Linked DNA regions of Homo sapiens. The protein of the gene in region 1 purifies or fractionates together with the protein of each later gene. This does not show direct contact. Each region holds a gene or a part of one and is shown in the gene's direction. Other genes may lie near its edges.

What was found.
Region 2: the proteins of SYBU (region 1) and TRAF7 purify together in Homo sapiens (affinity purification with mass spectrometry; 2 studies listed by BioGRID and IntAct, with this or other methods). This does not show direct contact.
Region 3: the proteins of SYBU (region 1) and CEP162 purify together in Homo sapiens (affinity purification with mass spectrometry; 2 studies listed by BioGRID and IntAct, with this or other methods). This does not show direct contact.
Region 4: the proteins of SYBU (region 1) and MTARC2 purify together in Homo sapiens (affinity purification with mass spectrometry; 2 studies listed by BioGRID and IntAct, with this or other methods). This does not show direct contact.

The regions. Positions count from the first base shown.
Region 1 is NC_000008.11:109,641,810-109,648,987, reverse strand, and holds the start of SYBU (syntabulin), read left to right. Parts: upstream 1-4,165; 5' UTR 4,166-4,271; coding exon of another isoform or gene 4,272-4,328; coding exon 4,329-4,352; intron 4,353-4,765; exon of another isoform or gene 4,766-4,859; intron 4,860-5,797; exon of another isoform or gene 5,798-6,040; coding exon of another isoform or gene 6,041-6,055; coding exon 6,056-6,260; intron 6,261-7,178. UniProt on the Homo sapiens protein: Part of a kinesin motor-adapter complex that is critical for the anterograde axonal transport of active zone components and contributes to activity-dependent presynaptic assembly during neuronal development.
Region 2 is NC_000016.10:2,165,779-2,172,802, forward strand, and holds part of TRAF7 (E3 ubiquitin-protein ligase TRAF7), read left to right. Parts: intron 1-78; exon of another isoform or gene 79-100; coding exon 101-158; intron 159-2,298; coding exon 2,299-2,390; intron 2,391-4,835; coding exon 4,836-4,952; intron 4,953-5,485; coding exon 5,486-5,578; intron 5,579-5,793; coding exon 5,794-5,827; intron 5,828-6,412; coding exon 6,413-6,596; intron 6,597-6,686; coding exon 6,687-6,821; intron 6,822-7,024. UniProt on the Homo sapiens protein: E3 ubiquitin and SUMO-protein ligase that plays a role in different biological processes such as innate immunity, inflammation or apoptosis. Potentiates MAP3K3-mediated activation of JUN/AP1 and DDIT3 transcriptional regulators.
Region 3 is NC_000006.12:84,224,637-84,231,533, reverse strand, and holds the start of CEP162 (centrosomal protein of 162 kDa), read left to right. Parts: upstream 1-3,890; 5' UTR 3,891-3,954; intron 3,955-5,081; 5' UTR 5,082-5,140; coding exon 5,141-5,197; intron 5,198-6,897. UniProt on the Homo sapiens protein: Required to promote assembly of the transition zone in primary cilia. Acts by specifically recognizing and binding the axonemal microtubule.
Region 4 is NC_000001.11:220,744,220-220,751,343, forward strand, and holds the start of MTARC2 (mitochondrial amidoxime reducing component 2 isoform a precursor), read left to right. Parts: upstream 1-4,102; 5' UTR 4,103-4,312; coding exon 4,313-4,584; exon of another isoform or gene 4,585-4,596; intron 4,597-7,110; exon of another isoform or gene 7,111-7,124. UniProt on the Homo sapiens protein: Catalyzes the reduction of N-oxygenated molecules, acting as a counterpart of cytochrome P450 and flavin-containing monooxygenases in metabolic cycles.

The DNA.
Region 1 (7,178 bases):
AGGGTTGATCAATCACACATGCTCTTATGGGAAAACAGGCAGCTCTCTCCCTGGTAAGAAAAATATGGGTCTCCACCCCACCCCACCACACACACAAAAAAATCTCACGATGCCCCAGAATGCAGTTTCTTTCCTTCGTGACGTGTTGTGAAGCACGTCAGCTGCTCCTTGTTGCTGTGCAGATCACCCAACATTAGGTCACCGAGAGAGACAGCAGCTCTTGCTCACACAGCTGATAGGATTAGGAGATGGTGCTTTGTCAGCCCTGATTGAGCCCAAGAAAACCCCCTGCATACACAGGTGAGATGTGAGGAAGAGTGAATGTGAGGGACCGTGATGTGTCTGGGTTGTTTGGTGCAGGCGTTTTCTTTTCAGCAGTGCATTTGTATTGTCTTCTCTGTGAAGTTTGCAGTCTAGGGGATTCCTATTAATAAAAATCTATGCTTTTTCAGTTATCTGGTCTCAGAGATTGGCCACATGTACCTCACGGGATTTTTGTGAGGCTCAAATAAAATTATATATGTGAAAGAGTTCTGAAAATATAAAGTTTTGTGCATACGAAAGGTAGGAATCATTTAATTACAAATTTCACATAAACAATCAAGTAACTTATCCCAGATTTGAGGGAATAATTATATAAAGACATTACCTTCCTTCCCAGTCTACAATACCCTATCTCTCCTGTGCTTTGCCAGGAGATATATATATATATTATATATATATATTATTGTATATATATATTATTATATATTATTTATAATATTTCAAGGTTAAATCCTAAAGCAATTGATATTTTCTAAAAGCCAGAAATACATTAATTTTTAAAGAAGCCAAAAGGTGATAAAACAAGACCATAAAGTAAGTCTTTAAGTAAAAAATGAAAATGATGCATAAGACTATTTTAAAGCAGGGGAAAGAAGACCATATTATGCTGTATTAGATTATATCTCTTTGATGGTATAATCCAAATGTTACAAGACATTTCTTCTAATGACATGAGAAACACTTGAATGAAATTAAGGCGGCATAGATATTATCATCGGTAAAACTTGCCTTTTAGAACAGTGGAAAAACAGGCTTGGGTTCCAAAAGTACAGAGCTAAGAGGCATCTGAACACTAAATCATCAGCCTTTCCCTCTGCTAGGTTGCTATGGCGACAGCAAGGCTACTGCACAGCCTCTCAGTGCCTGCACTTCTGCAGTAAAAGCTGTCACTGAACACATGTTGGATTTTTTAGGCACACACCCAATCATCAGATACAAATACATTGTGGAGGCAGCTTTATCTGAATCATTTTCAAAACAAGTTGTATCTATGTTCTTTATCTTGCACTGATGGGCCCCTTATGGGGTTATAGAATTCACTCATTCAGGCATTAATTCATTTGACAGTTATGTATTGAGTGTCAACTGTATAACAGGAATTGTACTAGGCACTGCCTACAAGCTTTGGTGAAAACAAACAAGTAAATGGGGAATTCTGAGGAGATCATAACAGCTCTCTTGGGGGTAAAAATAAGTGTCCTGGAATCATCAGGGGAGGTTTCCTGGAAGAAGCTGTCTAAAATGAAACAATGTATCTTTAAGAGTTGAGGAGGATAGGTGGATGTAGTGCAAGAAATGTTCTAAACAGAGGCAGGTGCAGCAGTCTCGACGAAAAAGAGAATACAAAACCTCCACCTCCGAGAACTGAAAGTGCTACAGTTTGAGCAGTATCCATTTGTATGTAAGGGAAGAGTGGCAGGGACCAAAGGGACAGGTTAGGGAGGGGAGGGAGTATCTACAAAAGAGAGGAGTGGCAAGAAATGAGATCGGAGAGGTAAACAAGGCGGCCAGATCAGGAAAGCCTTGTGTGCCACATTAAGGAGTTTCAGTATTACCTGGAGGACAATCAGGAAATCATTAATGAGTTTTCACGGAGAAGCATGACTTGATTTAGCTTTTCATAAAGGCTTGTGGAAAAATGGAGACACTGATCGGAGAGAAAGGAATAAGAGGCAAGGCTGAAAGCAAGAGACCTTGAGTTAGACCACTATTGCAATAATCTAGGGTGACTGTGGTTTACACTCTACACGAAGATAATGGAGACAAATAGTGGACAGAAGTAATCAGATTCAAGACCGTTATTACTTGGGTGGCATAGAGATCACTTGGTGGTTTATGCTATGTGTGGGTCAGGTGAATGAGAGAAAAAAGTCCACGATGACACTGAGGTTCTGACTTGGCTAACTCAGTGGAGGGTGTTTCTGCTATTAGGTCCCCAGTGTCAATTCTCAATTCTAAGTAGGGAACTCAGAAGCATCCATTAACTTTAAAAGTTTGTTCTTATCTCACAGTATATGATCCCAGGCTCATAATTTTAGGAATAATAAGTTGTATGAATCATCCTGGACCATCACTTTCCTGAGGTCCATATTTGAAACAGCTGTGGGTGTAGAAAGTATGAATTAATCACCTCTTCTTCCCAAATAAAGAATCTTAAAATTACCAACCTCACTGCTTGAGAGAGCTAAGTAGATTGAAAAGGCATGAAGATTTATGGAGGAAGCTCTCTTTTGGAGTTATAGGAAGAAGGGAAATTGATTCCACTAATCCTCTGGCTTCAGGCTCTCTCTAGACTCACAACATATATTCTTAGGCTTGAGAGTTGAGGACTCAGAAATGCTGTTTGGAGGATGGATGAAAGGGGACAATGACCCTCAGTTTTCGAGGAGCACAGTCCTCCTATGTAGGACACTGGTGCATAAGGATCAGAGTGTCGCACTGCTTGGAATATTCTCCAATTCTGAATAAAGGGTATATAAGTCATTATACATGGTGAATTCCACCACCAGATAAGATTTAAGGGTAGCAATTGTAATAAATCAAGGCCCTTGGCCCAGCTGATGTACCCTATTCTAAGTCCCCAGTTGGACAGATTTTCGAGCTTTCTTAAACAAATTTGTGTGCATCACAAATGCTTTTTCTGCCTGTCATGTAAAAGGCATCAACAAATATTGACTGGATCATCTGGACCTGACTTAGCTGCCCTTTGGAAAGTTCTGTTCAATCAGCTGGATAGAGCTGTTTGTTTTCCTCACCTAACCCTCACAGCTATCCTAGAGGTAGGTATCACTATTATTATCCCTCAATTTAACAAGGGTAAATTTGAAGTTCAGAAGGGTCAAGAACCGTAGGCGTAGGCCACGCATGCAATGGCATCCGCATGTAATTCGAGCACTTTGAGAGGCCTGGACGGGATGATCCCTTGATCCCAGGAGTTAGAGGTTGCAGTGAGCCCTGATCGCGCCACTGTACTACAGCCTGGGCCACAGAACGAGATGCCGTTTCAACAGCAACGGAAAAAAAAAAAAACAAAAAACGAAACAACAACAAAAACTTTAGGCATAAAGGCACTCAGGCTGAAGGGACCGATTGGAGTGCTGGCTTGAACTCGTTTTTCTGAGTTCAATTCCAGTGCTCTTCCCTTAGCAGTGTGCTGGAGCTACTTCCTGGAGCCGGGCAGCTGCAGGGCAGCGCTGGGGAAAAGACTGTTCTCTGGCTACATAGCAGCCTGGCTTCTCCAAGCCGGAGGGAGCTGCGCTGACCACTGAAGGCCTTTCTGATGCAACCCCTTCCAAGTAGAATCCATCGCAGCCTTTCAGATCCCGGAACCCAGAGGCTGTGTCGGTCCTGACGCACTGGCTTGGCTGGGCTCCGGTACGAGAGGGATCTCTGCAGCTCTCGGGCGAGGCAGTTGTGGGGAGCTGTAGGCTGACTTAAGACCTGGAGGCCAAGGAGGGGTGGCCAGGGGAAAACTTTCTCTATTTTGTCTCTCTGTGATGTCGCAGCTTTTCTCAGTCACTCCATCCAACGCCACCCACTTCAAACCTGAGATCAAGTGCAAAAAAAAAAGAGGGTGGGGTCACCCCTGGGCTGGAGATGCCGCTAGCCGCAGCCTGCCTACACCGGGCCGAGCTCCTTGGAGAGGGAGGGACACCGGCTCTGGCTGGGGGGGCGCGGAGTGCCGTGGGGAAATCGGGCGGGTGGGGCGCGCCCAGGCGCGGTCGAGTTGCCCCGAAGGCCGCAGGTGAGGGAGGGCGTGGGAGGCGCCCCAGGAGCTGCCTCTAGCGAGTGCGGCACCACGTGTCCGGCCGGGGCGGGGTCGGGCGTGCCCTCGGAGCCCAGAGCAATCGGCGGCAGTGGCGGCGGCGGCGCGTTGGAGCCTCACCAAGAGCCGCCGCCCGCAGCCCGCGCCGGCTCAGCGCAGTCTCCTCGCTCCGTGCTCGCAGGTGCCTCCTCCTGGACGGCGGCAGCGGCGGCGCGAGGAGCCGGCGGGCAGCGGCGCGATGGGGCCCCTCCGCGAGAGCAAGGTAAGGAGCGCGGGGCAGTGCGGGCACTGGAGGGCGGGGAAGGCGGGCACTGCGGGGCGAGAAGCGGCGGGATGAGAGCTGGAGGGGTGACATTTAGAGTCTGGGGAAAGGTGGAAGGAGGTGGTGGTGGGGTCTGGAGAAGGCAGGAGGCATTGCTTAGGAGTTGAGATCCAGGAGATGGGGAGGTGGTACTGGAGGAATAGATTTTGGAGAATGACATGATTGGAGGGTTAATCCCACCTCCTGAAACTGGGACTGTGGGGTGTAGCTTTCAGTTGATATCCTGTGTGTGTGATGTGAATGAAAGGAATTTGATGCATCCGCGACTGGGAAAAGAGGACTCCCGCGTGTCAGTGACCCTGCCTTAGCTCAGGGTCTGCGGTGTGCCCGGCGGAGTGGCTGGCGCATGGTACCTGCTGGGCGGCAGATGTGCAGGGCGAATCCGAGGCTGCGTGCGGCTGGCGGCCCCCGGGTAGAGTGGATGCCTGAGGGCCCTCCGAAGTTCCCCATTGCTGAGGTTTACCCTTCAATTTATGCCATGTGCCGGCCTCCCAGAGGTGTTTATTTTGGCCGTGACCCTTCCTGGTAAGCCGGTGGAAGGAACAGTAGGTCATGTTTCGAAAGGGTGTTTGTTACCTAAGCCAAAGAGTCCCTTTCAGTGGCAGAGGTTGGAGGAAGCAGTGGAATTTTTGCAAAACGCTCCTCCTAGGAATCCATTTTCATAAGGCAGGGTGGTGGTGACCCTGCAAAGCACTGGATTTGAATTTCGTTCTACTTCTGGCATGGTGTGCAGAATTGCCTAAGCATCTCTACCCCATTTAGCCTGTTTCCTCATCTGAAAATAGGGACATTCATTGGTGTGCTCTCTATGTACAGTCTGGTGTGTAAAGATCAAATGAGAAAATGGTTGGAAAAGCACTTTATAAGTTGGAAAACATTGTGAAAATATTACTGTTACGCATTTTTAAAACCACGAAATGGCAGGGTACTTCATGCTGCGTTTTTAAGGAGAAAGAAAAATCTCTTCTTATGGATGTCCTGTAAGGAAAACAAAAATTAAAGATGATGTAAAAGGTGGAGCCATCTTCCCGAGTATCGGATTTGTGTTTGCTTTTCTGTTGGCAACAAGCCTTGTGTACCAGGATATTAACGAATAATTAAGATCCTGTCCAGAAGAGGAGGGATTTTAAAGATAATTGTGTGTGAGCTATCAGGAAATAACTGTTCCAGGTATAGGGTTCAACTTTGTGAGGAGACAAGAAAACAAGTCAGACTGTCACAGCTAATTTAGGGAAAGCAAAATGGAAGTCTGAAGGCTATCAAGTAAGCCAGAGTGTGGTGTTAATAAAGAGCCTTTGGGAGGCAGAAGCTTGAATGTGATAGAAGTCAGGGTGGGAAGGTGAGTCAGGACCAGCATAGGGAAGTAGGATGGCCTTCCAGCTAGTGAGTGGAGGTGTGTATATGTGTGTGTGTGTGTGTGTGTGTGTGCCACACAGACATGTGCTATTCAGTAGATTAGAAAGGTTAACTCATTGGAAGAGTTTTGAAGCTCATTTCAGCAACTGAGATAAGAAGGACTACTCTGTGAAGACTCAATACTCAGAAATGTGATTTCTTAGAAATTGATCCTTGAAGGAACCGACAGGAGTTAAGAGAGGGAAACGCGTTTCCTTTTGTTTTCTTTTTTGATGTCCAATTTTGAGAAGGAGCACAGAGTGCAGCATCATGACAAGGAGATTTCTCGAAGCCGAATTCCCCGGTTGATTCTTCGGCCCCATATGCCCCAACAACAGCACAAAGTGTCCCCAGCCTCTGAGTCTCCTTTCTCTGAGGAAGAGAGCAGAGAGTTCAACCCCAGCAGCTCTGGGCGCTCAGCGAGGACCGTTAGCAGCAACAGCTTCTGCTCAGGTACAGTACCCTCGGGAGGCCACCAGAGGCGTGAAGCGTGTGCACTGCAGGTGCATTGTGAATGGGCCCATACTGGGTCCCTTATAGCCTAGAACTACACTTCTACTATTAGGATGAATTGTAGAAGGTGGTACATTTCTGGCTGTTGTGACCTACAAACACAGCAGTTTCATATAGTTCAGTTTATTGGAATCTCACACCTGAATTTTCATATGTTATTCTAGCTTATAATTTCGAATGTAAAATCTAACTTCTTGTTTCTATGACTTTTTTCCTTTGTTTTATTATACTTTAATTTCTGGGATACACGTGCAGAACATGCAGGTTTGTTACATAAGTATACACATGCCATGGTGGTTTGCTGCACCCATCAACCCATCATCTACATTAGGTATTTCTCCTAATGCTATCCCTCTCCTAGCCCCCACCCCCTGACAGGCCCTGGTATGTGATGTTCCCCTCCCTGTGTCCATGTGTTCAACTTCCACTTATGAGTGAGAACATGCGGTATTTGGTTTTCTGTTCCTCTGTTTAGTTTGCTGAGAATGATGGTTTCCAGCTTCATCCATGTCCCTGCAAAGGACATGAATTCATCCTTTTCTGTGGCTGCATAGTATTCCTTGGTGTATATGTGCCACATTTTCTTTATCCAGTCTATCATTGATGGGCATTTGGGTTGGTTCCAAGTCTTTGCTATTGTGAACAGTGCTGCAATAAACATACGTGTCCATGTGTCTTTATAGTGGAATGATTTATAATTCTTTGGATACATACCCAGTAATGGGATTGCTAGGTCAAATGGTATTTCTGGTTCTAGATCCTTGAGGAATCGCCACACTGTCTTCCACAATGGTTGAACTAATTTACACTCCCACCAACAGTGTAAAAACGTTCCTATTTCTCCACATCCTCTCCAGC
Region 2 (7,024 bases), on another chromosome or scaffold:
GCCTGGCCTGGTCGCGTGTTAGGCATGTGAGTGGGCTCCACATGTGCACGTCCTCCTTGTGTCCCGGAATGAGGCCAGGTCTCCTCCGTCCTCCCTCTAGACCAGAATGGAAACGACCTTCGGACCCGCCTTTTCAGCCGTCACCACCATCACAAAAGGTGAGCCCTTAAGCCAAGGCCAGCCCAGGCTGGGAATAACCGGGGCACCCCCATGCCCACCCTGCTAAGGACTGAGGGACACTTCCCGGTGAGCTGGTGTTGGGTGCCAGTGCTGGGCGCGGGCAGCCTCACACCGCAGCCTGTGTCCTCACAGCCTCTCAGCCCTGGGCCTCCCCACTGGACAGGAGTCGGGTGTCCTGCTCCTTGTGCCTCGGTGACTGTGCTGTGCCCTCTCTCCCTGCCCTCTTCATCCCCTCTAGGGAGGCTTGCCCTGACATCTCCAGCACCACCACACAGCCCTGTCCCTTGTCACAGTGATCCCCAGCTTGTCCCCAGTCTCAGGCTCCTGGCCAGCCTCCGAAAGGTCCCGTGTGCCCGGAGGTCTTCTCTTGAGTTTGGCCCTAGGGCTTCAGTAACAGTGCTGCAGTTGTGACATGTTAATAGGAAGGGAGGGAGAGTGGAAGAGATCCATAAGTCTGGTTTGTTTTTTTGAGACGGGTGTCACTCTGTCACCCAAGCTGGAATGCAGTGGCGCAATCTTGGCTCACTGCAACCTGTGCCTCCTGGGATCAGTCCTGCCACCTCAGCCTCCCAGGTAGCTGGGACCACAGGCACCACCACACCTGGCTAATTTTTTTTATGTTTGGTAGAGATGAGGTCTCACCATGTTGCCCAGGATGGTCTCAAATTCCTGGGCTCACGTGATCCTCCTGCCTTGGCCTCCCAAAGTGCTGGAATTACAGGCATGAGCCAGCAAGCCAAGCCCAATAAATCTTCACCTGCACAAGACCACTGGGCGGGATACACGACAGAAACCTGAAGCTTCCCTGCTGCTTCTCAGTCCTATCCCCTAAAAACCAGAGTGCTGCGCTTTGAACGCAAGCGCCGTGCTCAGGGAGACCATGCGGAAGTGGCAGTGCCTTCTTCCCGAGGTGCAGGGCCAGGGACCCTCATTCCGGGGTGGGGTTCTGGGGTGACTTTGTTCTCTCTCCTTTCTGGCACTCTGCCCTTTGTAGAAGCACACTGGCTGCTAATTAGCTTTTTAATTGCTCTGATAAACCTGGCCATGGGGTCATAGGGCCGCCAAGGACACCTGCTTACAGTAGCGCCTCTTTGCTGCTGGTGATCCCCTCAGGGGCTCTCCAGGGGCCCTCTTTTTTTTTCTAATCCTACCCCCCAAAAAACGGTGCCTTTTCATCTACCCTTAGAAGCCCCATGGCCCCTGTCACACGGCGGAAGGTACCCATGATGGGGCAGGGCACGGCTGCTATGCCTGGCCCCTCGGCGGCAGGGATGGGCAGAGCCAGGCAGCAGGGCGCCCACAGGTACCTCACCTGGCCCCTCATGACAGATGGGGAAACCGAGGCCCAGTCACACGGCAGCCTCTCGAGGCCTCAATCTCGAGCCCAGGGCTCATCGTGACATCTGAGCTGGGCTGGTCCTGAGTCCGGGAGGTGTCTCTCTCTGCCTCCCACGTGGACTGACCGGCCGGTAGCCCTGCCCTCTGGCCCTGGCCAAGCTGGGGTGACGTGTGGGCAGGAGGAGGGAGGGCACTTCAGCTCCTGCCCCAGAGGAGGCCACCAAAGCTGGGGCCACTTCCTGGTCCTGGCTGTGCCAGGGACACCAGGATGCGGTCCTGGCCCTTCTGTATCCCAGCCCACACCTCAACCTCAGCTTCCCCCTCTGTGAGTGGAGGCTGTCAGGGAACTCACCTGGCAGAGGTGCCTCAAGAGGCAAATAAAATGGCACCCCCAGCTGCTGCCAGGCGGCCTTCAGAGTGATGGCTGCGTGCTGGCCATGAGCCTCAGCTGGCTCAATTGGGGTGCTGGGGAGCTTGTAGAGGCCCTGAAAGAAGACCCTGCCTGGGGTAGGCAGGGCTGGGGCAGGGGCTACCGGGCTCAGCGCTGGGACTGTCCAGATGTAGACCGAGCCCAGCGTCCATGCTCCTGGCACTGGTTTGACCTTGAGAGGGAACCCAAGCTTCCCCCGTGCCATCCCTGCATGCTTTCCTGCCTGCCTGGCCCTGGGGAGGGCTGTGAGCTACAGGGGACCCACAGGGTCGGGTATCCAGCATGGGCCCCACCTCCCCCACATCTGCTGAGGGAGCCCCCACTGAGACGCCAGCCCTCTTGCCTTGCAGCTGACGGGACCAGCACCTACAAGCAGCACTGCAGGACACCCTCCTCCTCCAGCACCCTTGCCTACTCCCCGCGGGACGAGGAGGACAGCATGGTAGGTCCCTACCCCCAGGAGCCCGTGTGAGCCTCAGCCTCCCCCCATCCTCCCTCCTGGGGGAACCAGGTCCCAGGAGGAGTTGACAGTGAGCTGGTGAGGCACAGGAGAAGAAGAGCACCTGTGGATACCCTGAGGCCTCGGCAGACATGGCAAGTCTGTGAGAAAGGAGGCTCCTGTGGCTGGACTGTGGGTGGCAGGGGGCAGCCAGTGAGGGCAGCTGGGTCAGAGGGCCTGGCACCTGCAGGCCAGGATGAGGCATATTTGGCTCCATCTTAAGGGAGGTGGAAACCACAGAAAGTTCAGTCAGGAGGATAGCACAATAAAATACATGCTTTGAAAGCTTCCTTTGCTGCTGGGTAGGGAATGAGCGGGGTTGCTGGGTCCAGGCAGGGTTTGAGGAGGGGTCCTGATGAGGCGGGGGGAAAGGTGTGTGGACCTAAGCTGTGGGGACACCAGAGGCAATGGGGTGGGGGTTGCGGAACCTGCGCCAAGTGCTGGGGGAGCCGGAGAATTCCCTGTTGCTGGCTGTGTGAGGTGCAGAAAGGATCAGGGCAGTCGGGGGCTGGCTGCTGGTACCTGAGCCCTGTGGCCAGGGTCTCAGTGGCCGTTCCCTGCCATCCTGGTCAATGGCGCTCATTGCTGGGCTCTGGGCCTACCCAGGGGACAGAGGCCAACTCTACCCTGGGCATGAAGGACTGGCCCAGCAGGGGGTGGGGGTGTGTGGGGCCTCTCTGGCAGCTGCCTCTCTCCAGTGCTTGGACACCAGGTGTGGCGGCCCTGCTGGCCCTCTTGGGACCGAGGCCTTTTCTTTTTTCCTTTTTTCTTTTTTTTGAGACGGACTTTTGCTCTTGCTGCCCAGGCTGGAGTGCAATGGTGTGATCTCAGCTCACCACAACCTCCGCCTCCCGGGTTTAAGTGACTCTCCTGCCTCAGCCTCCCGAGTAGCTGGGATTACAGGCGTGCACCACCACTCCTGGCTAATTTTGAATTAGTAGAGATGGGGTTTCTCCATGTTGGTCAGGCTGGTCTCGAACTCCCGACCTCAGCTGATCTGCCCCCTCCTTGGCCTTCCAAAGTGCTGGGATTACAAGTGTGAGCCACCTTGCTCAGCCAGAAAAGAAGTTTTTAATTAATTGAACAAACACACCTGTGTGCCGGGCGCTGTGCTAGGCCGAGGGCGAGTTGGGTATGTCTGGGCCCCGTCCCCTGGGCCTCTGCCTGCCTCGGTCTCCACAACCCGAAGCCACGAGTCCTCCATGTCTGTGGTTCCCATAATCACCTGCTATCCCCATGGGTCACGGTGGCTTTCAAGAGAGGCGGGTACCTTCTCTGTTTGCTGATAGGCCCACACAGGGAGTCCCCCTCCTGCCCTTCCCCCGTCCCCCAGGCCTGCCTGCTGTCAGCCCCTACGCCCAAGAGGGTGGGAGACTCTGGGGTAGTATTGGGCAGGCCCGGGAGAGTGGTTCCCGTGCCAGCTCCTGCTCTGCTCTCGCCCCTGGGGCTCCCTCTGCTGCTGTGGGGCCTTGTGACTCACTTTCTCTGACTCCCTTCTGTTCCCCATGTGCTGCTTCCATGCAGACGGGCCCTTGGGACCCAAAGGGAGGTGGGTACATGGCACACAATGCCCCCCGCCGGCCTTGGGACTGGTTTGCCTCTGTGCTCTGTGGGTTTCATACCCAGGCTGCCGGGAAGGGGGCCAGAGGCTCGGCAGAGCAGCAGCTGGGCCCCTCTGCAGTCAAAGCACCAGGAGAGAAGCCTTGGGCAGTGTGGCTCTTGGAAACTTCTGGAGGTTTCCAGGCCAGAGGGGAGGAAGGGACAGTGTCTGCCCCTCCCCCAGGCTCCCTTGTCGGTGGCTCAGCCAGAGGCAGGCACCTGTGGCCCTCACTCCTGCCCTCGGGAAGCTCAGCCGAGGTTCTCTGGGGGCCTGGCCCTGCCTTCCCTCTGAGCCTCCCAGCTGGGCCTGGTGTCCCCCACCAGCAAGGCCAGACAAGCAGCCAGGCCCGGGGGGCACCTGGAGCCCAGCCGTCGCTCCCTGCCAGCATTCCTGGCCCTTCCATCCTGCGGTCACGGCCTCGGCTGTCCAGGATTGGCTGGTGGAGGTGCCCCCTCACGGCCCACATTCCCCCACGGGAAGCAGGAAGCAGCCCGGGTATATGGAATTGAATAGCAGGAAGTCTCTCCATTTACACAAAGAGAGGTGGCAGGCGTGAGCGGGCAGCCCAGCACCCCGGCCCAGGCCGCCCAGGCGGGCAGGCAGGGACCTGGGTTGCATCAGCTCCCCACGCCCACCCACGGCCCCCGTGGACGAGGAGAGTACCCGCAGGGACCGGGGTGGCCCCAGGGGTGCTGCTGCCCTCGCGCTTCCGCCGGGCTGGGTCCTGTCCTCCCCGAGGCTCTGACCCCGTGCGGAGCCCCCCGACAGGCGCCTCTCCCTCCACACAGCCCCCCATCAGCACTCCCCGCCGCTCCGACTCCGCCATCTCTGTCCGCTCCCTGCACTCAGAGTCCAGCATGTCTCTGCGCTCCACATTCTCACTGCCCGAGGAGGAGGAGGAGCCGGTAGGTGTGGGGGACTCGGCGCAGAGCGGCTTCCAGGGCTGTCACCGCAGCCGTGGCACGGAGGCACCTTCCCCTCCGCCATGCCCGCCCAGCTCACAGGGAGAGGGCGGCTGGGGCCTGACGGGAACTGCAGTGCTTGCTGGTCCGTGGTGGGGACTCGAGGGACCAGGCCGGGTCCCCTGGGCATGTTCCCCCACTCCCCCTTCTCAGGGCTGCCCGGGAACTGGCAGCGGGAAGCACAGGGCTCCAGCAGGGCCCTTTCTAGTCTCACCCCAGGAAGGAGGCGGGCGAGGGCGGCCAAGGCTGGGCGGCTGAACTCATCCTCCGGGGTTGGGCCCTGCCTCTGGGGCCACAGACCTCGCTCTCCCTCCTGGGCCCCGATCAAGCCCCCCAGCTCTAAGCAGGCCTCTCTCAGGACGTGACCCTGTCCTCAGAGGACAGCCAGGCCTGGAGCAAGAGCGCCTGGGTGCCTGGGTGGTGGCGGGGCTGAGGGTGGCCTCCCGCCATCGCCTGCCTTTCCCGCTTGGTTCCAGGAGCCACTGGTGTTTGCGGAGCAGCCCTCGGTGAAGCTGTGCTGTCAGCTCTGCTGCAGCGTCTTCAAAGACCCCGTGATCACCACGTGTGGGGTGAGCCCGCCGCCCTTCCCAGCCCCCCTGCTGCCAGAGGCCCCCACAGGACCCCAGGGCTCTCGGGGGCCGGGGCTGTGGCGCCCTGGCCTTGGTCAAGGCCTGTCCTGGCTGCACTGGGCTTGGGGTACAGCGAGGCCTGTGGCTGCCATGGCCATGGACTAGGGAAAAAGAGGACCCTGCGCCACCCTCAAGCCCGCCCTTTGCCTCCACAGCACACGTTCTGTAGGAGATGCGCCTTGAAGTCAGGTAGGTTTGTGCCCCGGCCCAGGCCTGACGCCGACCGTGCCCATGGCTGCCGAGCAGAGGCGGGCGGCTTCTCCCTTGTCCCCTGCACAGCGTCCGGCCCTGTTTGGCCTCTGCTGGGGTTGGGATGGGGCTGCAGCCGTCCTAGGGACGCTCAGGCTGAGGCTCGGGACCTCCATGAGCAGAGTGGGGACACCCCAAATTCCAGTGTGTCCAGACTCAGAGACCCCACAGTGGGTGTGGGCCGAGGCTCCCCATGCCAGGGTTGGCACCCTCTGGGGAGGCCTTTCTCACTGGCGAGGCTGTCGTCCTCCCGCACGGCGCCCGCTCCTGCCTGCCTCTCCGCACTCTGCCCTCTGCCCTCTTGGCCCCACCCCACACTTTTCCGGGCACAGCTGAGTGTCACAGGTGACACTCCCTCAGCACCTGCTGCTCCTTCTTGGTGGCCCACCTGTGCCCCCGTTCCCATGTTGCGTGCCTCAGAGGCGCAGATGGACAGATCTGGCCCCCATTAGAGGCTCATGCCCACCCGGGTGAGGGAGCGTGTGCCAGGCAGGCCGTGAGGGTCAGCACGCCCTCCTCTCCCAGAGAAGTGTCCCGTGGACAACGTCAAACTGACCGTGGTGGTGAACAACATCGCGGTGGCCGAGCAGATCGGGGAGCTCTTCATCCACTGCCGGCACGGCTGCCGGGTAGCGGGCAGCGGGAAGCCCCCCATCTTTGAGGTGGACCCCCGAGGGTGCCCCTTCACCATCAAGCTCAGCGCCCGGAAGTAAGTGCCCCTCCCTGGGCACCTCTGCCTCCCTGGGGGCTGCTTCTCAGGGCTCTGGCTGAGGCCTCCCCGCATCCCGCCCTGGCACAGGGACCACGAGGGCAGCTGTGACTACAGGCCTGTGCGGTGTCCCAACAACCCCAGCTGCCCCCCGCTGCTCAGGATGAACCTGGAGGCCCACCTCAAGGAGTGCGAGCACATCAAATGCCCCCACTCCAAGTACGGGTGAGTGGGGGGCGGGCGGGGGTGGGCCGGGGTGGGCGCAGGCCCTCCACAGGCTCCGCTGAGAGCTGCCCGCTTGCTGGTCCCGGGGAGGTAGGCCGGAGCTGGGGCCACACCGGGGTCTGTAATCCTCTCTGAGGCCCAAGGCCCTGGAAACCCAGAGGGGGAGCCGAGGGCGTCCAGGAAGGCGGGCGTGGACGCTCCCG
Region 3 (6,897 bases), on another chromosome or scaffold:
TTCCATCACTACAAAGATTTCCTATGCTACCTCTTCATATCTACACTCACCCAGTTGATAGTTCATTGTGGTTCTAATTTGCATTTCCCTAATGATGTGGAATATCTTGGTGATGCTGAGCATCTTTTCATGTGCTTATTCACCATTTTCATATACCTTTCTCATGTCCCCTTTGGTGAAATGTCCACTCGTGTCTTTTGTCCATTTTCTAATTGTGTATTTTGCTTTTGCTATTTTGCTAGTGTTCTTTATATGTTCTAGATAGCAGCCCTTTGTCAGATATGTGGTTTGCAAATATTTCATCCTAGTCTTTAGTTTGTCTTTTCCTCCTCACAGGGTCTTCATAGGCTGAGTTTTTCCTTGATTCGTCAATTTTTGTGTTTTTACATTTCCATAATAATTATAAAACCATGTTGATAACTGTATTATTTAGAAGCATAGCCAAATTGCTGACATCCTCAGTGGCCATTTACTGGATTATTAAAGAATTATTTTAAAAACAATTTCATGACCTAAATCACCATCCATGAGTTCATGATATAATTGTAAATGGGCAGCTCTGCATACCCTAGGGAAAGAGCATCTGCCTGTATTTTAGAAACATTTAAATACTTGTAAATATGACTGTACAATTTCTCAATATTCTACTATGAATTATTATTCTTTTTCTTGGGAACAACTTATAACAATAGCTTAAACTTTGACTACTACATTTCATATACAAAACAATTAAGAAAAATTTTAAGTAGTCAAAAGCAGTCAGATGTGGACAAATGAGCAGAAGTCAACAATGACTTTGACAAACAAAATAACGATGGCAATAACAAAAAAACCATTAATTTTCTTATGACTAGAATGATACGATTCCTTCAGTGTCTTCCTCATTATCCACATAAGTGAAGAGAATACCCACTTCTGAAAATTAGAGGTAAAGAAGCAAGCAACTGGAACTATTATGTAACTGTATCTGATTCAGTTCTTCTCCTTAATCCACTCCCACAATGTGCTAAGTTTACACCCCATTACCGTTGCAGGTCTTGGCTACAACTATACTGTCAGTGTTGACCGAGTTCTCACACTGTACTGTTTGCTACGAGAAAAGGCAATATAAGGCTTGAGGTACAGTCTCCCCCTCTAGAACCTCACTAGAGAGCTGGATAAACACCAAATATAAATCAAATTTCATATCATTCTAGGAAACACAAAAAGAAACACATAATGATTGAGAAACCTGTAACAATTATGGAGAATCTAAAAGTAGGAAACTTTGATGCTACCCAGAGTGATTTAACTACTAAAGTAGCCATTTCATTGACATTTTAGATATATATTTATGATGAGAGCTAGTATTAAATGGTGTTTTAAATTATGGGTCATGAGGTCAATTCATTTTATAAAAATGAATACAATAGTATACAGCACAGTGTAAACTCTCAAAAAATATTAATCATTCTTTTAATGACTATTATTTTGAAAAATGTATAACAATTCAATTCAGTACCAAAAATTTAGTGACATCCCTTCCACAATTCAGCATAACAAACTCTTGGATCCTATAAGCATAAGTTTTGTAGGTTTACGCATAGAGACAAAATGATTATTCACTCTTTAGACACAGTAACATTCATCTTCCACTCCTTATACCAAAGCTCCAATTCTAACCTCAATAGGACTGAACTCTGTACCAGAGCTGCAAATAATTCTGCATGCCTTGGTGAGTGGGGGTGAGAGGAGGCTGTAGAAGAGAATAGTGCCGACCATACCATGCAAGTCCTTGTAGATATTTGGATTTTAGTACAAATACAGAGAGAAATCATTGTAGGATTTTCAGCAATGGAGTAACCTGATTTACATTTTCAAATTATCACATTTTCTATTGTGTAGACAATGGGTTAGACGAGGATAGGAGTAGAAATAGAGAAACTTGTTAGAAGGCTAATGAAGCAGCTCAGACAAGAGGAAAAGATGCCTCTATCATTAGTAATTAAGATGTAAAATGAACAGAATAGAGACACATTTTGGAGGTAGCACCAACAAGTCTTGACGAATAAAATATGGGAGAGAGGGAACTCCCAGATTTCTGTCTTGAATGAGTAGGTGTATGGAAGTACCATGAAGTGTGACAGAATAAGAGTCCAGAAATAAGCCCTAAGAAATTCTAACATTGGCCAGGCGCGGTGGCTCACACCTGTAATCCCAACACTTTGGGAGGCCAAGGTGGGCAGATCAGGAGTTCAAGACTAGCCTGACTAACATGGTGAAACTCTGTCTCTACTAAAAACACAAAATTAGCCAGGTGTGGTGGTGGGCACCTGTAATCCCAGTTACTCGGGAGGCTGAGGCAGGAGAATCAGTTGAACCCAGGAGGTGGAGGTTGCAGTGAGCCGAGATCGCACTATTGTACTCCAGCCTGGGTGACAGAGCAAGACTCCGTCTCAAAAAAATAGAAATTAAAAAAAAAGAAAGAAAGAAAAGAAAAAAAGAAAAAGAAGAAAAGAAAAGAAATTCTAACATTTAGAGGTCAGCTAGGATAGACAGAGACAGTGAAAACCCTTGAGGGGAGGCTATAAATGTGAAAGAAAAACCAAGAAAGAGAGGAGACAAGTGTATCAAATAGTATTGGGAGATCAAATAAAGCGCTGTCATATATGTACACTTACACACACAGAGACAGGATTAAAAGGTCTGACAAAAGGGAGGTAAAGTGGAAATAATTCCTCAGAAAAGATTGGCAAGTAAGGTGAGGAGACAGATCATTTCAACCACTGGGAAATAATAGCATGAAGAGAATGTGTCAGAAGTGATGTTTTAGGTGGGGATCTCAAGGCATGTTCAAATGCTGTTAGGAAAAATCCCACAGCCAGCCAGAAGTCGAAGATACAGGATTAAGGGAAATGACCAGTGGAACAAGATCAGTGAGAAGAAGAATGGGTAAAGGCTCTAGATCATATGTGGGAAGGTAAGTCTTTGATAGAAGGTGGCAGGAAGTCAACTTCTCAATAAATGGTAGCTTAAGATATTTCTTTTATTATTCATATTTGCATCATAGTCCACAGCTCCTGGTTTGTACATATTTGTATTGCAAGAAAGACTTGATGAATAAACAGTTCTAGCTAAAGATGAGGTCCTGAACTAAGTCTACCATCAGCAAAACCTGCAGCTGTTGTAGATTTTACTTACACTATGCTAAATGTTGTCCTCTGAAACTCCAGCTAATGTTGCATGCTTTGAAAAAAAGAAAAGAAATAGAAAACAAAATCCAAGTCAGTAATTGTGAAATGCCAGTAAAGAATGCAGTTTTGAAAAGTAGGGGTAGCGGGAGGAGCAATAACTTAATAAGAATCTTGCTGTTTGCGTATTTTCGATTTCTTGCCCACTAGGTGGTGGAACAGAGTCCCCATCTAAACGACAGTTTTTTTCCTCACAGGTTTGTGTTTCTCTCACAATGCCTACACAGGTCTTTGCAGGCCAAAGAAATCCAAGAAATTCAATCTCTTCAAAATTGCCCCTTGGAAAAACAGAGCGCTCGAATGACAAGTGTGGGGAAGGCGGGAGGCGACGATGCGGAGTGCGGAAACACAAGGACCAGGGGAGCTAAACTACATTTCCCAGAAAGCCACGGGCTGGCCTACAACCACCGCGCCCTCCAAGCCTGCTGGAAGCCTCCGTCTCGCTTCTCCAGTAACCGGTTTGCCGCTGTCCCCTTTTCTAAGGAACGTAGAGAAAGCCAGGGAAGGAAAGGCATTTTACTGCAGCAGCGAAGGTTTAGCCACTAGAGTGTCTTTCTCAGCCGTGGTTATTCCGACCTTCGCTTGTAAAGGCATTGGGAAACCCACGGCCCACGTGACCAGCCCGGGTCATGTGACTCCAGAACCCGGCAGCTGAAGTCTGTTACCCTGACAACTGGTGGACCCGCACAGACCTTCCGGGAAAGCGCGGAATTCAGAGGCAGAGGTAGGTGGTAAGGTGTGAACGCTGGTTTCCCACCCAAATCGCCCTGGTCGAGGCCGTGCTTCATACTCGAGCGAAGGGCTTTAATTTTCCAGGTCATTCCCCTTCTCCGCCCGGAGCCCACGGCAAATGCGTCTTTGTCTTCCCTCCAATTCCCGAACCCGCGCTTCTGGGGACGGGGTCGCAGCCAGGCTTGAGAAGCTTTTAGTGGAGCTCACCCCTGACCAAGCTATTCAGGCCAAGACCTTAACCGCACTTACCCTGAACTGATCGAAAGTGCAAATGAGGGGAAGAGGTGTTACTCTGCACGATGGGGAGGGTATTGTCCGGGTCTGCAAGCCCTCTTCCCCTCCCCCATCTCTACAGAAGAAAGCTGGGATTTGAGCTGCTCTAGGGAGTTCAGGAGCTGGGGGTCGACCCAAGGTTGGGTTCATTAGGTGTCTAGGGGAACGCTTTCCGTTGCAAATCACTGGATTCTGCTTGTGTTCAGCACATAATTTTTGTCGGTCTTCCCTCGCTTCAAAAGAAACATAGTACTGATTTGTGTACTCCATTAACTTTAAGTATTCTTTAAGTATTTTGACTAAATTACTAATTCTTACTAAATTCTATTTGTGTATATTTTGAAACATCCCCGTATCTGGATACAGTCTGCTTTACGAAACTATGCAGTCTGCTTTACGAAACTATTACTATGGATTGGTAAAATAACGAGCCGAGTGATAAGGCAGCACAAACTGTCGTGTGCTTTGCAAGAAAGAAACAGTCCTTTGGATTTGCTAACTTACAGTTTTTAAGATTCCCTGTGAGGACCTGGTTTGTGTTTGAGAGGTACTAATTAACACATGCACACAAACATAGGTTTGGGAAATATTGTAGAGACCACTCTTTAACAATTGGATGTTAACAGATGAAAACATAATTCTGAACGTTGAGTACAAGACATCCTGTCAAAGCTGCTTTTCCAAATCAGTTTGCTTAATGAATTAGGAATCTCTTGACCAGCTCTTACTGGTTAAAAAAAATTGTGCATATATACTGAATCATAACAAATGTCCGAAGTTTAAGTCTGGTCGTGTTCATGATCTGATGGATTTCCTCAAAAGATGTTTATGTCTCTTGTCATTTAGTGTTTCCAATGTTTGAGGTACTTTAGAATGTTTACTTTGGGAGGTCAAAATTGTTGACTATGGCTAACTGTTCCCAAGAAGAGCTAGATGAAGAGTTTGAACAGTTTATGAAAGAGGTAAGTTTATATTTTTAAAAGCTATATTGTCAAATTTGTCTCAAAAGACTCATCCTTCAATTCTGTCATCTCGAAGATACAGTTAGTCCATCACCAAACTCTGAATTCCCATCATCCCTCTAGCCCTGTCCCTTTTCTGCCACTGCTAGTTCAGTGCCATCATCTCAACTGGGCTATGGCAGCAGTTCTCAACTCATGGTCCAGCATTCCTTTCACCACACTGCAGTCAGACTCTGTTCCTCCCCAGTAAAAGACTCTATTGGTCTCCCATCACATGTAGAAAAAAAAAAACAAACAACTCCTCCTTACCATGGTTTTAAAGCCTTTCATGATTTCACTCTTACATATCTCACTGCCTTCATATCCCTCTTTCACCCACTTTATTTATTCCACAGTGGCCTTTTTTCTTTCCCAGACATTGCAAGCTCATTTCACCTTAGGAGCTTTGCACTCACTGTTCCCTCTGCCAATAATGCTCCTCCCTTACTCTTTACCTGGCTGGTGAAAATCTTAACTTAAATATCACCACTTCAGAGAGGCTTCTTCTGTTTATCCAGTAAAAGGTAAACACAAAGTCACTTCTTAATCTGGTATGTATTTAATTCTTTTTATAGCACTTAGCACATTAATTATTTTTCTTGTATGGGTCTGTTTTCTGCTTCCCATTATAAGAATGTATGGTCTGTAATGTGATGACTCTACGTTCATTGCTATTATATATCAACATGTTCACTACTATGTCTACAGTACCTAATAAATACTTAATAAATATTTGAATGAGTATATTAAATGGTTATACCACGTTCTGTGTACAGTCATGCACCTCATAAAGATGGTTTGGTCAGCAACAGACCACATATACAACAATGGTTCCGTAAGATTATAATGGGGCTGCCCTATAAAGGTGTATCTTTTTAATCTTTTGTACCATATGTTTACTTTTCTATGTTTAGATACAGAAATGCTTGCCATTGTGTTACAGTTGCCTGCAGGATTCAGTACAGTACATGCTGAACAGCTTTGTAACCTAGGAGCAATAAGCTATACCATATAGCCTAGGTGTGGAGTAGGCTATACCATGGAGCCATCTAGGTTTGTGTAAATATACTCTATGATGCTCCTATGATGAAATCCCATTTCTCAGAACATATCCCCATAATTAAGCGATGCATAAAACTCTATTTATATAAATGGAGGGGCCTTGTAGAGCATTCAAGAGAGTCACATTTTAAGCTATTATACGTTATACATTCTTGTTAAAAAAGGGAGTTTAATGTAGTACAAAAAAACTTCATTATCCGTCTCATGGAAAAATAATGCCTTCTTTGTAGAATTGTTTTAAGGATTTAAAAAAGCATCTACCAATTGTCAAGATGTAATAGGCACTTGGAATAAGTTTCATTTACCATTTGAAAAGTTGATTTTTTAAAATTTCAAATACAGACACATTTTGAAAATTAAATTTATAGGAATGATTTTTATTGTAAAAGATAGCAGAACAGGCCTTTTAGAAGATGTTTTTATTCTTCCCTCATTTACCACCCTTCCAGCACACACATTCTCCAACACTCTCCTTCCCCCACCCTTCTGTCTGTGTCTCTCTTCCTCTTATATCCATCCTCAGTTGCAATGTGTCATTTTTTTTTTACTGTGAAAGTCATGATTTTAGAGTCATGCTAACTTTTCTCACTTTGATAAAT
Region 4 (7,124 bases), on another chromosome or scaffold:
CTGCCTCAGTCGCCCAAAGCACTAGGATTACAGGTGTGTGCCACTGGGCCTGGCCTAAGGGGACCTTTGATTAATGTTTGGCCTGCATCAAACTGGGATGTAAGTGAGAAATAAACTTTTATTTTGTTAGAGCATTGAGATGTTGAGGTTGTTACAATATTTTAGCCTAGCCTGCGTCATGAGATTTGTTATATGGGTTGAAGGTTGACTATCCTCACTGCCTGATAATCTGATGTGCTCATCTCCCCAGGAAAGACAAACTGCTACATGGCCCTGATGAATACTTCCATTGGCTGCTGGGTACTCACCTTCCTGAAGAGGACCTGGCTAAGCAAGGTAATATTTGGGTTTTAGGCTTCTTTTTTTCTCTGGTTTCTTGGTTGATATTTTAATTGACAGAGTTTTCTTTATCTATGTCAGTGCCTCTAGGCAGACAATGATGTCTTATTCACTAGAAAGATTTTTCCTAAGCAGAAGTTGCCAAAATATGACAAACTAGGGGAAAAAGTTATGACTTGGGAAGGCATGATAAAAGGGTAATTTTCTTAATTTATAAAAGGATCTTATAAATTAACAAAAAAATAGATAAGTTGATTCAAATCAGAAGGGAAAAAAGATATGCAAACAGCCAATTAGACTCATGAATCCTCAACCTTTGATATGGTTTGGATCTGTGTCCCCAACCAAATCTCATGTTCAATTGCAACCCTCAGTGTTGGAGTTAAGGCCTGCTGGGAGGTGATTGGATCATGGGGCTGGTTTCTCATGGTTTAATACCATTCCCCTTGGTGCTATCATCCTGAGAGTGAGTTCTCATGAGATCTGGCTGTTTAAAAGCATGTGGAACCTCCCCCCTCTCTCTGGGTCCTGCTCCTATCATGTAAGACATCCACTGCTGCTTTGTCTTCCACCATGAGTAAAAGCTCCCTGAGGTCTCCCAGAAGCAGAAGCCGCCGTTCTTCCTGTACAGACTGCAGAACTATGAGCCAATTAAACATTTTTTCTTGATAAATGACCCAGCTTCAGGTATTTCATTATAGCAGTGTGAGAATGGACTAATACAGCCTCTCATCACCCCTCACTAATTCTACAAATGAAGATGCTGGGCTGCAAATGTACACATTACTGATAAGGAATTTCCCTGCTCCCCTGAAGGCACCCCCAACCCCAGCATTGGTGAAGCTTAAACAGGGCAGGCTATGATAGATAATGGCTGGTGAAGACAGCAAAGACTTGGCAGCACTCACCATGGCAAAGTTCCTCACTTGATGTCTATCCCCATCATTTTGCACATGAGGAGGTGGAAGCATGGAAAGGTCAAGTTACCCATCTATCTAGGTAACTATTTCTTCTTTGATGTCTCAAAGATACCTCTCACTCGCTGTTCACAATAGGCTCATCATCTTTTTTCCCAGACTATCTTCTTCTCTTGAATTCTCTTTTTTTTTTTTTTGAGACGGAGTCTCTCTCTGTCGCCCAGGCTGGAGTGCAGTGGCGCGATCTCGGCTCACTGAAAGCTCCGCCTCCTGGGTTCACACCATTCTCCTGCCTCAGCCTCCCAAGTAGCTGGGACTACAGATGCCCACCACCATGCCTGGCTAATTTTTTGTATTTTTAGTAGAGACGGGGTTTCACTATGTGAGCCAGGATGGTCTCGATATCCTGACCTCCTGATCCGCCCACCTCGGCCTCCCAAAGTGCTGGGATTACAGGTGTGAGCCACTGTGCCCAGCTTCTCTTGAATTCTTAATCTCTGAGAATGGTACCCCCATCCCACCCCAGACTTTTATGCCACAGAGCCAGGAGGCCCCGTGGGCTCTTCCTCTCCCTCTGGCTCTGTGTTCTGTCATCACTATCTCTTGTTAATTCTGTCCCCTGACCATCTCTCCTAACCACATGTCTATCTCCAGCCCCACTGTTATTTTTCCTTGATTTGGAATTACATCAGCCTGAACTAGGGCATTTGCAACTCATCTAACCATCTTTGGTGTTACTCTTTCTCAGAGCAGCCAGAATGGCCTTCCTAGCACCCAAGTCTAATCATGCCAGACTGTTGTTCAGAATTCTGAGGTGTCTCCACATTAAGTAGAGATAAGATGCCTGTTGATCTGACCTCTGCCCACCTGTCCTGCCTCAACTCCCGCCACCTGCTGCATGCACAGGTACATCCTAATACAGCTGGATTGCTGGTGGTTGCCCAAACATGCCACACTCTCTTGTTCCTTCCATTTTTTCAGGCTATTGCACGTGCTGCTCCTTTTGCCCAGAATCCTCTCCTTTACCCATCTCCAAGCCCCTCCTCATGTTCAAGTCTCAGCTCCAAAGCTCCGCCCTCTGAAAACAGCACTGTCCTGAGATTCAGCTGCTCTTTTGCCTCTGCATCCTCTGCATCTTGACCTTGCTTCTCCTCTGACATTATCCTCTAGACTTGCAGGGGAGGTGTCAGTCTTCTGGGGAGTCAGTGAACTGGATGGAAGGGCAGCTTCTTCTAAACTTTAAATCCCCAGTGCCAATCTAGGACGAAGCCTGGTGAATGATCAATATCTATGTGGTGAAAGAAAGAGATGATTAATCAATAAGACATTTGCCCTGTCTGGGAGCTCACGTATAGCGAGGCGATGGCTTTGTAAGCCCCTCACTCTGACAGCAGGCTTGTGGGCAGGGAGGACTCTGACCCTCCTCAGGAGTTGGGAGAGGCAAAGGGGGTCAGCTACAAGTGTACACACATCACATTCACCACACCATGCTTAAAAAACAAATCCATAAGTCGCAGCTGCCAAGCATGATGTAAATGTATGGGGATTGAGGGACTAATTCTGCTGGCCTGAGGTTTTTTCCTGGGTGGGGAGAGATTCAGGCCCTGTTTTGTCTTTCACTTTTCACAAGGAACAGCCAAAGGGAACCTGGCTCCTCTGGTTCTCCATCCTTCCCGGAGTCTCTTCCCACACTCCAGAACGGGCCCCTTTCTCTGGAGGTGGCCAGCCCAGATTTGGGGGGTGGCCCACTGGTTGGCCTCCTTAAACTTTCCTAGAACTGTGCCACAGTTTAAGGGACAAACTTTTGAAAAACAGAACAACAACAAAAAACTTGAAAGACTTCAAACCTTAATTTGTCTGAGAAAATCCACTGTTAACCCAATAGCTTGCTTGAATGGAGGTGTTAAAGATCAACAAAGCCAGACATTAGTTAAACCATGAAAACAGATTTTACTCAGTAACTACTTACAGTAGGAGAAAAAGCTGATCATTCTCATTTGTGCATAGCAGAATGGGCGTTTTAAAGGGTGAAGGAGAGAATAGGGCCGGGAAGCTAGCAGGGGATCAAGTGAAAAATCATGAAGGGGCGGTCAGTATTAATGACGGGCAGCTGTGCCTGGAGCTGGCCGTTATGAAGCTGGGATTCTATCCTCCCACAGAGACTGGGGGACAGAGGCCTATCCTCCCCATGACTGCATTTCAGAGCAATGGCTTTCAGGTCCTTGAGAAAGACACTTCTGAGGTGTAGGCGATACATATACATCTCAAAGCAACAGAGAAAGGATTCACAGTTGTAAGCCCTTTTAAGAAAATATCCTAAAAAAGGGAGGTCAGGGGCTTTACCATCGGGTGTTGGCTAGAATAAACGGGGAATTCTCCTGGCTGCCTTGAGCTTTCTCGGGAAGACATTTTACTGGGGTCGAGGTTAGGCGGCAGCGGAGGGTGGGGGACCTTGAGTCATGCTCCTATAAGCCACGCTAGAGTTCCTCGTCTTTGAGTGCAGAGGTTTAGACTGTGTCTTTGTGTGCAGAAAGTCCTGCAGTTCTCACAGCGACCTGCCAGAAAAAGTCGTTCCCAAATGTTTGTAAATCCTCCGTTGGGCAACCCGCCTTCACGTTCTGCGGTGATCTTGTCGAGCGACTAAGCGTGCAGTATTAGCAGAGAAGGGGGTGGCAGAGTGCTGGCGCTGAAGGTCATGTTGCATGGGTAACTGTCGTGTTGTAGGGGCGGGGAAGAGGGAGGAGACACTGACCACCCCAGAGGCCGCCCCATTAGCTCGCTTGCTTTGGGCGGCGTCGCTCCCACGGCGCCCAGGGTACCCCCGCCGCTGTCTGCCTGTCTTCCTCCATTACCGCGCAGGCTTGGTCACCGCATTAAGGCATTCCCGCTCTCCGCGGAACTGCTCTGCCGTCTCGGCGGTGAAAGTGTGAGAGGGTCCGTAGTTGGGTCAACTTTGACTCCTCTCGCCTGCCCGGATCCTTAAGGGCCTCCTCGTCCTCCCGGTCTCCGGTCGCTGCCGGGTCTGTGCGCCGGTCCGCGCCCGCCCTCGCTCTGCCATGGGCGCTTCCAGCTCCTCCGCGCTGGCCCGCCTCGGCCTCCCAGCCCGGCCCTGGCCCAGGTGGCTCGGGGTCGCCGCGCTAGGACTGGCCGCCGTGGCCCTGGGGACTGTCGCCTGGCGCCGCGCATGGCCCAGGCGGCGCCGGCGGCTGCAGCAGGTGGGCACCGTGGCGAAGCTCTGGATCTACCCGGTGAAATCCTGCAAAGGGGTGCCGGTGAGCGAGGCTGAGTGCACGGCCATGGGGCTGCGCAGCGGCAACCTGCGGGACAGGTACAGCACAGCGCGGGCGCGGGGCAGCGCGGAGCCTGCCTGGGATGAGGAGCGGGGGGGCAGGTGGGGCCCGATCTATCTGGGAAGGACTATAGAGGTTTGCCACCTGAGTTTCTGGGCTGACTGTTGGGCCGTTGGTCGTTTATCTGGGAAGGCCAAGTTCATGCCAGGTTTATTTTTGGTAAAGTAGGTAGGGGCAATCCCTTGCCCTTCCCTAGACGAGAGATTCCTCCTCTGTAACAGGAGGGGGTCTGACCTGTATCTCCAAGTCTCCTTAGCTCTAAAGTTTGTGATTCTATCCTAGTATACCAAAGTAGAAAAATAAAGCTATTGGCACTAGAAAGCAGCAAGAAAGAAACCAAGTGTTGTTCAAGGACATTGGCTTAGGCCTTGCTGGGCCTTGTTCCTCACATTTCTCCAATCCTGGGGGTGCCCTGGAGGCCTGATACACTTTGATGAAGGATGAGCAAGTGGCATGGGGACTCTGGGGCAGAGGTGATACTTGCCATTAAGGGAATAGTGTCCCCCCTTCTCCCATAGGCAGAGTTGTTCACAGCCTGGAACTTTGGGACTTTTGGGCCTGACACATAGACATTTCATACTTAGGATTAAGATGCCTTCTTCTTTTTTTTTTTTTTTTTTTTTGAGACAGAATCTCACTTCGTAGCTCAGGCTGGAGTGCAGTGGCACTATCTCAGCTCACTGCAACCTCCATCTCCCAAGTTCAAGCAATTCTCCTGCCTCAGCCTCCCAAGTAGCTGAGATTACAGGTGTGCGCCACCACGCCCGGCTAATTTTTGTATTTTTAGTAGAAACGGGGTTTCACTCTGTTGACCAGGCTGGTCTCAAACTCCTGACCTCAGGGAATCCACCAGCCTCGGCCTCCTAAAGTGCTGGGATTACAGGTGTGAGCCACTGTGCCCAGCCAAGATGTCTTCTTATCTGGCCGAGATGGTTTAGCTGTGGGCCTGTGTCCGAGGGGAGGGAGGTTTGCAAGTTGATCATTCAAGGATTCCTCTAGCAGAGAGCCACCTGCATCCCTGTGTTCACTCCAGGACACGCGGATGCACTGTTTTCTGAAGACTGCTGCCCTCTTAAAGAAATGTGGACTTCCATGGTGTTGGAAAACTTCAGAGAGTCTTAGAGAAGTGTTGTGTACACAGACCATATGAATCATGGGAGGATTTTCATTCTCCCACCCTTACCCCAGATTTCTTATCCTGGAGAGCTTTTTCAACTATAACTTCCTGAGATTCCCATCCCAGGACTACGGAAGCAGAATCACCAAGAGTGGGGCCAACTCGTGTAGAATGTTTAAATCTCCCCCTGGTGATTTTGATGCTATAATTAAAGGATTTTATCCGAGACCATGAAGAAGAAGAGGATGTTTAGAGCTTATTCAAATATGAAGGATAAGAAAAGCCTTCCTATTACTGGAAAGACTTCAGGCTGTGTGGGACTGGACACCTTCCAAAAAACTGGGAGAACCAAATTCTCACGATGCATGTCCAGAGAAAATTAGTGTTGCAGGCTAGGTTGCACTACTTCCTTCCTCGCTTGAAGGGTTGGTTTCACAGACAGTTTCCAGTTCTAATCTGCGTTTCCTCTGATCACCTGAAGAACGGTTTCTTTCCCACTTCTCTTTGTCACTGCTTTGCCATGACTACTGCAACCATGGAAAGAAAATACGTGTCCTTTGCCTGTGCTTTTTGCTCCCACTGGCATCCTAAAATAAATACAACTGTATTACCTTTCCCTTGTTTTAAACAATAAACGCTTAGGATGGGGTGGGGTGATGTGAAGCCTGGGGTAGAGGGAAAGGCAATGAAATTAATGTTATTCAGTGTTAAAATGCAGCAGACACTGAGCTAAATCCTGTCGCATAGATTAGCATATTTAAACCTCATAACAATCTTGTGGGCTAGATAGTATTATCACCATTTTGCAAATAAGGAAACAGTATCAGAATGAAGGAGTATCCCATCCAAGGCCAGAAAACCAGTGTGTGCTGTGGGGATGTGAACTCAGATCTGTGTGAGTACAGAACTTATGCTGTTTGTATGAAACCAGTGCATGATATAAAACTATAAGGATTGCACTGAGGATCAGGAGACTTTGGGCGAACTTCTACAAAGTTGTCTCATTTGCAAAAGAATGAGGTTGAACTTCATGGTCTCTAAAGCCCCATTTTAACTACATTTTATTTATCAAAGCATAATTAACAATTTGAAAGCAGGCTTGCTGGAGAGAACTCTGTTTGATAGCCGCTGTCTTCTCCACCTGACAATTTAATAACACTACTACAAATGTTCCTAGAGTTCAGGGAAAGGCCTCATTTAATGAATTCCATTCTGAACCTGTGTCTTTGGAACTAACTGTTCCAAGGAGCTGGGATTTTCCTCTGGAAGTGCTCTGGGTCTCAAATTTCTAAAGGTATTTTGTTCAAAGCTCTTAGTATACTTGTGAACACTTGGCTTGAGCACCCTAAGCATTGAGTGTTTAAAGTCCACCTGGCAGAATGCTGGCATTCGGTGCCTGGT